2 linked regions of the Homo sapiens genome follow. The protein of the gene in region 2 interacts with the protein of the main gene of each other region in a pairwise test. Each region holds a gene or a part of one and is shown on either strand. Other genes may lie near its edges.

What was found.
Region 1: the proteins of TXK (region 2) and SOCS6 interact in binary tests that used the Homo sapiens proteins (3 or more experiments, as listed by UniProt).

Annotation. Positions count from the first base shown.
Region 1 is NC_000018.10:70,327,026-70,330,717, reverse strand, and holds the end of SOCS6 (suppressor of cytokine signaling 6), read right to left. Parts: 3' UTR 519-3,692; downstream 1-518. UniProt on the Homo sapiens protein: SOCS family proteins form part of a classical negative feedback system that regulates cytokine signal transduction.
Region 2 is NC_000004.12:48,068,246-48,075,282, forward strand, and holds part of TXK (tyrosine-protein kinase TXK), read right to left. Parts: intron 5,809-7,037; coding exon 5,690-5,808; intron 3,430-5,689; coding exon 3,272-3,429; intron 1-3,271. UniProt on the Homo sapiens protein: Non-receptor tyrosine kinase that plays a redundant role with ITK in regulation of the adaptive immune response. Regulates the development, function and differentiation of conventional T-cells and nonconventional NKT-cells.

The sequences.
Region 1 (3,692 bases), on a different chromosome or scaffold from region 2:
AAAAGAATTTGTTTACAAAGTATTCAAACAAAATAAAGTGGGTGTTTAATCCCAGATTTAAGAACTCTGACACAATTAAATACAGTGGATATAAGAACTCTTTCTTATCTATGAAAAAATTTCTAAATGACCCCTATATACACTTTAATGACCTGGTTGTATTTCAATGAAATATTAACAGTGATATGCTTTTTTAATGTCACAATCCAAACATTGTATCATTTAGCCTAGCCTTCTTTCAGTGAGGTTTCATTACTGTGTCAGTTTTTAGTCTTTTTGCTTAGTACAAGTTCTCCAAACTCACTCCAGCCTTCACCGGGAAGGCTTTCATAGATTAGCACCACTAGCTGATATCTTCTATTAGGGACATGATTCTGCTTTCCCATTTTTACTAAAATTTGCTGGTTCTCATCCTCCAGCCCCTGCGCAGTTCCTGGGACACCCAGAAATTTTCTCGTTAACCCCATACTAATTAAAATCAGGCACCTCTCAGGGTATTAAGTAGACTACAAGGCAGGTCTTGTGAACGAAATTTTTTATTTACACACTGTATCTAGAAGCAGATACATAAATTCTTATACAATTAATTTCCAAAAATGTGCAAGAAATTACTATAATTTGTTTACAAACCAAAACACGTATTAAAATCAATGGACTTTGGATAATTCATTCTGTGGTGTTCTCAGTACAAATGGTACACACCTGATTTGAAACATACAGAAAAAGTGTAAACTACCGCAATCTGAATTGCAAGTATTAATTTCATGGCACTCCAACGACTATGAAATTTCTTTCACCCAACATGTAAATACTTGTTACAAAATTCTATAAGAATTTTTCATAATCTCTGGATGTAGAGTTTGGATCACTTTTCAGAAACAGCAACTACACACTTCGCCATGTTATGACTGATTAATAAAAAGAATGTTTATAAAAACCCTTCTTTACAGGATTAAAAAAGTATTAAAAGAAACCATATTTGTGATTGCTAGTGTACCAACACTTTTAGAATTTTAAAGTTATTTACGGAACTGGCTATTGTTCCTTATTAGAGTTTTCAAGAAAACTGTCTATTGCTGGTAGTGTGATTTCATTTTGAAATTAAGACTTCGCATTTAATGAAAAGCAATTAAGATTTAAATGAAAATGTATTATTCCGATTCATTCATAAAGCAGTATCTCTCATATACAATGTGAAATGTAATTAAAACTGGCATTTCTGAAAGCATTGTTACAAAGATATTTTAGACTTGTAGCACTAGCAGAGACATTGCATTAACCTATGTTAGATTTTATAACTTTTATCCTGTTTCAGTAATACTGGCTCAAGAATTACAACGCATACTTTGGGTTTTGTTTCCTTTATGCCAATGATTTAGCCTTTTGGAACTGTTTTCTTCAACAGCAAGATGGTTGGTTGCCCCGTGTAGCTGGTTTCCTTAAAAACTATTTTTAGGTCTATGATCATTTCCTGTGACATATTTTGACCTTCTAAATTTTCAGATTATTGCACCAAGTAGAAAGAGTTTTCCTTAGACAGAAAGAGAATTAGATATTTTTCAAGTACTTTCTACAGCCTTCTTCTTATTTATAAAAATGCATAATAGTGTTATAGTAAGCCTAAAAATAGCTTCTGGCCTCCATCATATTTCGTGATGAAATATTTAATAGAAAACAATTCTGATTCATCTATTATGGCAAATGGATACAGCTTTCCTGTTTTCTTTTTCTTGCTTTGAGCTCAGATTTTTAGAAGCACGTATTTAAAAAGCACTCATAGGCTGTGTCCATGTCATCTATGTTAACTGCCAATAGAATCCTAAAATTTAACCAAATTGTGTCTAGACCAAACTAAATGATGAGTTTTCTCTCTCTCTTTTCCCTGTTTCCACTTTTAACTGGACTGTGTTAGTATCATATAAAGCCAATCTTTCACATTCTGTTGTGCTGCCTACCCCAAATGGTTATCTTTCTACACAAAAGTAGAAAATATCGCAAAACATCTTTCTGCTTGTAAATTTAACTTTTTGGCAAATAGTTTGATTTTATCATTATACTATCAGAATCTAACAATTTCAAACTAGATTAGAATAGGGCATATTAAAGTATATATTATGAATATACAAAAGCGCATCAAAATTTGGCTTTCTGAATTAGAACAGTATCAAGACTGTCCTCCACTAAAACACAAAATACAATTTTAAAAACATTTAGATGAAAATCTCAATAATCTTGACACTAAGCGGGTAGATCTTAAACACATGGCATGATGAGAAAACGAAGGGAATAGGTTATGTCCACATAAGACGGGTTCAGGGCAGTCCAAAGACCTCTGTGCACCATGATCTCACAAGGAGGACATGTAAATGCTTCTGGAGACACGGAGAAGCCATTTCAACATTTATTATTAATACACAGTGACTCTGTGACAAAACCTGCCATCTAATATAGATGCACAGGGACTTTTAACTCACCCTAGATATACTTTAAGTTGTTTTAAAAATAAATAGTTTTGCAAAAAAATAGTTTAAATGTCTTGCATTAATTTGATAACAAGCTTACAACTCTGCAATAGTTCTTAATCCAAATAGCTTATAATGAACACTTATATTATTACAGTATACTCCATATTCCATCTTATTAGGAGAAAACATATGAGAAAATGAGAGTCTTTTTAACAAGGTACAATCAACATCCCACCAAAATTAAGTACCTTTTCCCCTTTAAGTCAAAATACCATAACACCATAATATTATGGCATTGTGCCTTTTCTTGGTAATATCTCAGTTCTGACCCTAAAAAGCAAAGAGAAAAAAGTGAGGATTCAGATATGCTTGAATGACAAAGCCAGTAAGTTTGACCTAAACCTTTACCCTCATGTTTAAAGTGGGTAAGAGACTTTTCCTATCTCTTCCTTTAAGTGACAAAGGAAGAACCATCCCAAATTACATGTTTCATCTGAGATAGAAACATTTTCCTTTAAAGGTGTGTAGCTGAAAATTTTCTGGACAGGGCAATCCCAAAATACTACATCCATTGCAGAACTGTGAAATGAATAAACACTCTGCATTACAAAATAACTAAAAATTATTGAATATAACATCTCTCCCCAACAACCGACTCAAGGAGATAAAATTATTAGCAACGGCAAATTACTTAAGACTTAGCTAAATTTTAAAAACCTATTTTTAAATGGCAGTATATATGATAGACAATATGACTTCCACATTATCTAATATGGTTTAGAATTTTTCTCACATTGTGAGAAAAATTGCTCCACAATTTCCACAATTTTTAAACTAAAGTCATCACGGGTTCTCTTTATAGTGGGGGTAAGGATTGGTCAAATCCAGCACACTTTTATAGTAACTACATAGAAGAAAAATATAAATCCAACTTTAAAACAATGTTTTCTTTCTATTCAAATCAATTTAAAACTTTTTATAAACATTAATGTTGCAAGAGAATCCAGTCCATTTATGAAAATTAGTTGACAATCAAGTTCACCCAAGAAAATGTTGACTAAGCTAAAGAAATCACAGATAAAACATTTTACCAAAAGGATAGGTAACACACAAAAAAATGCTATCACAGGAAGCTATGATCATCTAATATTTCTTTAATAATAATTCTAGTTCCATAGGTTTTCATGTTATGCCAATTTGTACCCGAGTTTAATTACAGAAAAGGCA
Region 2 (7,037 bases):
CACGACCCTAGAGATATATTTGAATGACTTGACATGTGTGAGGTAAAGAAAGGGCTGGGAGAAGGGGCATCTAGCATACCAGGCTCCCAAGCTCAGTTCAGGGTATCTATGACACCTGAGCCATTATAGAAAGGAGGATTTCAGTCAGAAAGCAAAAGGCATGTTTTCATGAGGGACTTTGAAGGTCTTGGGGCACAGGTTGTGCTTTCAGTCTCAGTCAACAGAAAAATAAGAGTGTGGAAGTCCCTCTCACACATAGAAAAATGATTGCTGAATATTCTTACATTTTAAAAAGTTTTAAAAGCCTGTGATCTTTGCACAGTTTTTGAGTCAGCAACTCTAAAGGAAGATATTCACCATAAGTGACCCCATATCCCTGGTCATGGAGCCAAGGATTGGAGCATTTTTTCCTACTTCACTTAGGGGTGTGGTTTAGCTCTGATTCCAAGAGGAAGAAGAGATGGCACTGTCAGCATCTTTTAAAACCATGGGAAACAGAGCTACTCATAGTAGCCACATTCTCACAGGGGTCATTGACAGTAGGGTCAGCGGAAAGACACCCCTCTTCATGGCTTATAAACAGAGAGCATCAGTAAAATAAACAGAGCAGAAGACAGCACAAGTGCAAGTGAGGGTCCTTATTGAGACTCTGGGCATAAATTGTGGAGCTCTGTGAGGAGCCTGTTTCTGCGCATGAATCCTGAAATTTGTCTCTCAAAGATAGCATAATCACGTTTGACTCTAATGCCCTAAGCACATGGGGTAAAGCTGTAGGCAATATCAACTTTTGCACCTGACATAATGACTCACATCTGTAATCCCAGCACTTTGGGAGGCCAAGGTAGGAGGACTGCTTGAGGCCTGGGCAACAAAGTGAGACCCCATCTCTAGAAAAAATTTTAAAAAATTAGCTGGTCATGGTGGCACATCACTGTAGTCCCAGCTATTCAGGAGGCTGAGCTGGGCGGATTGCGTAAGCCCAGGAGGTCAAGGCTGCAGTGAGATGTGATTGTGCCACTGCACTGTAGTCTGGGAAACAGAGCAAGACTCTGTCTCAAAAATAAATCAATCTTTTCTTTTCTTTTTTTTTTTTTTTTTTTGAGACAGTCTGGCCCAGTCACCCAGGCTGGAGTGCAATGGTGGGATCTTGGCTCACTGCAACCTCTGCCTCCCAGGTTCAAACAATTCTCCTGCCTCAGCCTCCTGAGTAGCTGGGATTACAGGTGCCCGCCACCATGCCCAGCTAATTTTTTTGTATTTTTAGTAGAGACGGGGTTTCACCATGTTAGCCAGGCTGGTCTCGAACTCCCAGCCTCGTGATTCGCCCACCTCAGCCTCCCAAAGTGCTGGGATTACAAGCATGAGCCACCACACCCGGCCAAATCAACTTTTTCAAACAAATAAATCGACATAACCACACCATTGTATTAATCAATGTTCTGATTGCAATTTGAGACAAATGTTGTTTACATGGTCCTTCTGACAGCATCCTACTTATCACTTCCCTTCCTCCTTCTATGTCTCAGTTCCACTTACATATAACATCTCAATAAGCATTATATTACACACACACGTGTGTATTATTTCATACACAACATATACTTCTGAGCTACTTACATTGTTATTGCAAAGATGCTCCTAAAACGGCTGCTTATTACTACTCACTGAACATTTTTCTGAACATTTTTTTCTTACAGCTTGCTGAGCATTTTTCTATGTCTTTCAAGATTCCTTGTAAAGTAGTTAATATATGTAAAATATTTTCATACATTGGGGCTCTCTATAAATGTAATGCTTTTGGAATATGAATAACCACATCACTCTTAAAATATTCAATATTCTAGTGTTTGTGGATTGATAATCAAGTGCTTTATTTTTTCAGCCAGGAGGAAACTTCTCATCAAGCTGCAATTTCCAGCTGAAACTGTCAGCTGGAAAGAGACCAAAGCTCTCAAAATCAAAGGGAATTTCACTGAGAAGGGCAGGGGTGTGTTGAGTCAGTGCCCAGAGGTGGAAAAGAAGCCCCTCTGGCTTTATTTCTAAGCTTGGCATTTCAACAAATAGAAAAACTAAGTTCTGGAGAGATTTCTTCCTGAGTGGAAGTTCCTGACACACTTTCTGCCTCCATTCCTATTCTAGTTTAATCTGTAGCAGGAGTCCTGACTGCCAGAAGACAGATGAAACCCATTACTATTAGCGTTGGAAAAGCAAGACAAAGCAAAGTTGAGTGAAGTAAATGGAAACACCATCTTTCTTTTTCAACCTGGAAATTTAACAAGCCTGGTTCTACCCTTAGTTTCCACCATTAATTCTTTTATTTATTTGCTTATTTATTTATTTATTTATTTTTTGAGACAGAGTCTTGTTCTGTTGTCCAGGCTGGAGTGTAGTGGCGCAATCTCAGCTCACTGTAGCCTTTGCCTCCTGGGTTCGAGCAATTCTCCTATCTCCGCCTCCCAAGTAGCTGGAATTACAGGCATGCACCACCAGGCCTGGCTAATTTTTGTATTTTTAGTAGAGACAGGGTTTCACCATGTTGGCCAGGCTGGTCTCAAACTCCTGACCTCAAGTGATCTGGCCACCTCGGCCTCCCAAAGTGCTGGGGTTACAGGCGTGAGCCACCACACACAGCCTCCATCATTTAATTCTTTTTTTTTTTTTTTTTTTTTTTGAGATGGAGTCTCACTCTGTCGCCCAGGCTGGAGTGCAGTGGCGCCATCTCGGCTCACTGCAAGCTCCGCCTCCCAGGTTCAAGATTCTTCTCCTGCTTCAGCATCCCCAGTAGCTGGGATTACAGGCATGCACCACCACGCCCGGCTAATTTTTGTATTTTTAGTAGAGATGGGGTTTTACCACGTTGGCTGGGCTGGTCTCAAACTCCTGACCTCAGGTGATCCACCCGCCTCGGCCTCCCAAAGTGCTGAGATTACAGGCATGAGTCACTGCGCCCGGCCCATTAATTCTTAAAGCTAATAAAACATCTAATCACTGAGGCTTGAGTAACACCAAGAGTTTCTGCAAGAACCAATCTCAAACAGATAAGACTCAGAAAATGCACTGAATTCCTCAGATAAAAGGCCATTGTTCAAAACAAAATGGATTCATGACTTTGTAGTGAGTTTGAGATAGTACTTCAGACTCTCAGGATCATGACCAAGACACAGATGCCTTTTCCTGCCATGACAGAGTTCTGAAGTAATGTTTGTGATAATCAGGTCTGCTCTCAGATGCTGGGACTGCCAACCTTCATAGGAAAGTAACATATGCTTACCTCATGCCAGCAGCTGTACATGACTTCATATATGGACATTGGTGCCAGGTGAGGGCGATATAGCCTGAAGCCTTCAGAAATAGCTTCCACGACTTGCAAATTTGACTTATTTTCAAAAGGCATTTTTCCTTCTGTAAAAACTTCCCACATTAAAACTCCTGCAAACAAAAATGCAGGAAAACAAGGGGTTAGAGAGAAATGATTGCTTGGGAACTGAAAGAACAATTTCAAACTACAAGGCATTATTTTTGTGCTCCAGGCTTTGGGCTATAACCATCCTGAATAACAGCGGTTCTGTCAAGGAAGCAAATCATGTTCACTTTAGTTTTCAAAGAGGCCTGTAACCTGAAAATAATCTAAGTGAAAACAATGCCTTTCCTTGTCCATGGGTCTTGATTGCCTCTCCTATCAGGAGAAAATGCCAGTAGCATTTTCTTTTCTTTTTTTTTTTTTTTGAGACAGGGTCTCGCTCTGTCGCCCGGGCTGGAGTGCAGTGGCATGATCTCAGCTCACTGCAACCTCTGTCTACCGGGCTGGAGTGCAGTGGCATGATCTCAGCTCACTGCAACCTCTGTCTCCCGGGTTCAAGCAATTCTTCTGCTTCAGCCTCCTGAGTTGCTGGGATTATAGGTGCCCACCACCACGCCCAACTAATTTTTCTATTTTTAGTAGAGGCGGGGTTTCACCATGTTGGCCAGGCTGGTCTCGAGCTCTGACCTCAGGTGATTCGACCACCTCAGCCTCCCAAAGTGCTGGAATTACAAACGTAAGCCATCACGCCCGGCCTAGCATTTTCATTTCTAAGCAGCAGTCACGTTCCTGCATCCTGAAATCAATGAACCTTTCTGCCATTCCATAGAAACTGACAGGATTATGTGAGCCTCTGCTGCCTACTTAGCCAAGAGTTTCAGCCAGTAAATGGCATGTGTCCCCTTCTTTCTGCTAAAAGATTAGACTGATGGGCAGAGCCCCAGAATATCTAGCAGGGGCTCTGTACATAAGTAGATGTCCAATAATCATTGATTGATTGATTAGTGAAACTCCTGCAAGAACTCCTAATTTGAGTTCATTTAATTATTCACTTATTCTACAAATATTTACTAGACATTGATGAGAGGCGAGGCCTCTGCTGGGGCCTGGAGATTTTATAAGTGTGAGATCAATCCATGTGCCTAAGGAGCTCACTGTTCAGTGAGGGAGACAAGTAGGTAAAATTCAGGGAGTTCTAATTGTTTGGCAACCTTCGATGAGGTCGTTATATTGCTCTTCATTGGTCTCTAAGATGTGGTCTCACAACCTAATTGCTCTTCAGTAGAGCTTCAAGTGTCACCTGCTGAGACTATCATATGTCCATGGAGAGCTAATGAGATTAATGACACAAGCTTAACTTTATTGTATGTTTTTAAATTTATGTTTTAATTTTTTTGAGGCAGGGTCTTGCTCTGTCATCCAGGCTGGAGTACAGTGGCACGATCCTAGCTTACTATAACCTCAAACTCCTGGGCTCAAGCAATCCTCCTGCCTCAGCCTCCCGAGGAACTGGGACTACAGGTATATGCCACCACACCTGGCTAATTTTTTTTTTTTTTTTGTAAAGACAGAGTCTTGCTAGGTTGCCCAGGCTAGTCTTGAACTCCTGGTCTCAAACAATCCTCCCACTTCAGCCTCCCAAAGTGCTGGAATTGTAGGCCTGAGCCACTGTGCCCAGTTTTAACCTTATTGTAGACAATAAAACTGACACCCTTCTGAGGACCCAGAACCCACAAGCCTCCAGGAAGTTTGGGGTGAAAGAGGATAGATAGATTTTTGCATATTTATTACCATTTTTTGAAAATCAACCCCGAAACTTCATTGGACGTGGGTCTATGGTGTCTCTTTCTCAATGAAGAACATTATCCAATATGAATATCAATTTATAGATCCCAAGGAAGCCTATGTCTAAATTCCACAAACTTTAAAGTTAAGGAAGTAAATGAGATGCCACCATTTTTTAAACTCAGGTTTTAAGTTCAGGTTAACAACTGAACAACTGGAAAATAGTCAACCTGCTTCACAGTTTAGACAATTAAGTTTATTAATTACACTCTAAACAATGTCATAAGATCATTTTTCCTTCAAGCCTCTGCGGAGTGGAAAACTTATCTGAGTTTGTTTTCTAGATCAGTAGACTCTTTGTTATGGTTTTATAGTGAGTGCCCATGGAGGAAGGAAAAGATCCAAAAGGCAGACTTATGTAAGAAGGTATGTGACACCAGTTGCCAAAGACAGTCGGGATGTGGTTAGAACACACAGAAGGAAGCACAATTACAAGAAGACTTTTTAAAAAATGCTATATCAATTAGGAAATCAAAGTTAAAAATAACACATTGCCCATTTTATTAAATCAAGCTCCAGCAAGTGAACATCAGATGCACTCACCAAATGACCAGACATCAGATTTACTGCTGTACTTATTGAAAAGAAAAACTTCAGGAGGGGACCACTTGATTGGGAACTTGGCTCCAAAAGAACTGACATACTCATCATCCAAAACGTACCTAAGTTTATCAGATTCAAAGCATATTGTGTTAATTACCTCCAAGCTCTATTTACTTCAAATCCCTTTAGTTAACTCTAAGTTGCTAAAAGACAAAGTATTTTACCCCAGAAAGGTTGTGGATGCCTTCTTGTTAGTAGAGTGTGAAAGTGTCCCTGATAATGTTTCCTCCCCAAACAAAGTCTCAATTGTATTTGTTTTACGTGGACCTCTGAAAATCATAATGCTGCTTCAGTTCAAAACATGGCTCACTGTTTATGTTAATTATGGTAAATTCTTAACTCTACAAAGAAGCCTGCTAAAGGCTCTAACAACCAAGATTATAAAAAGGAAATAAAAGACCACTCTTCCCAGGGGTGGGGAAAACAAAGACCACTCTTCTTAAAATGGAAATGAATGATTCAAAGTTGGATGTCGAATTTTCTTCCATGTGCATGTTTTTTTGTGGGGCATACAGAAGGGGGGAAAGTAAAAGTATATGAACATAATGCTTCTGATATGACAAATCTCTAATGCACTAGAATGGCCCTATATGGAAAGAAACCAAGAATAACTACCGTCTCCTTAAAAAAATAACAAGTTGAACCCTCTCTCTTTTTTGAGAATTGTACACCGGGATGTCCAAATGTCAGACACTGAGGAGAAGAGACAAAAATAAACTTGTGCTTGTTGCCCCTTAAATATACAATATAGTGTTTTCACAGCATTTATTAATGCTGCCCCTATACTCTCACTTTTTTTTTAAATACACTACCTCCCTCCACCTGTCAGCACTTTATTGAGTCAGAGGTCATTCTACTTAGGTAAAGAATGACTAACAGAAAACAAAGAGAGAAAAGCCACTGTTTATAGATTTTGAATTTTTCAAGTCTAGGCTCTTCAGAGAAGAAAGATTGAGTTATTAACAAAATATCTTGGAAAATGGGCCATGAACAGGAGTGAGATCTCACTACCACCACCCCTATTACCACCACTATCTAGAAAAAGATCCCCTGAGCTTTGGGGGGATCTTTTTCCCCCAAAAAGAGGAATGGGGGAAATAGAAGGGAAAGAAAAGGGGGGTACTAGACATTAGTAGATCAGTGGGTTAGGGTCCTGTATCTTGTACCCTAAAGGGCTGCCCAAGTACTTTAGGAAAGAAGCTCCTACTCCCACATTAGGTTGGTGGGATTTAAAAGTGACACAGAACCAGTGCTCTTTTCCCCAGGTGGAGCCCTTGGAAAGGCAGAA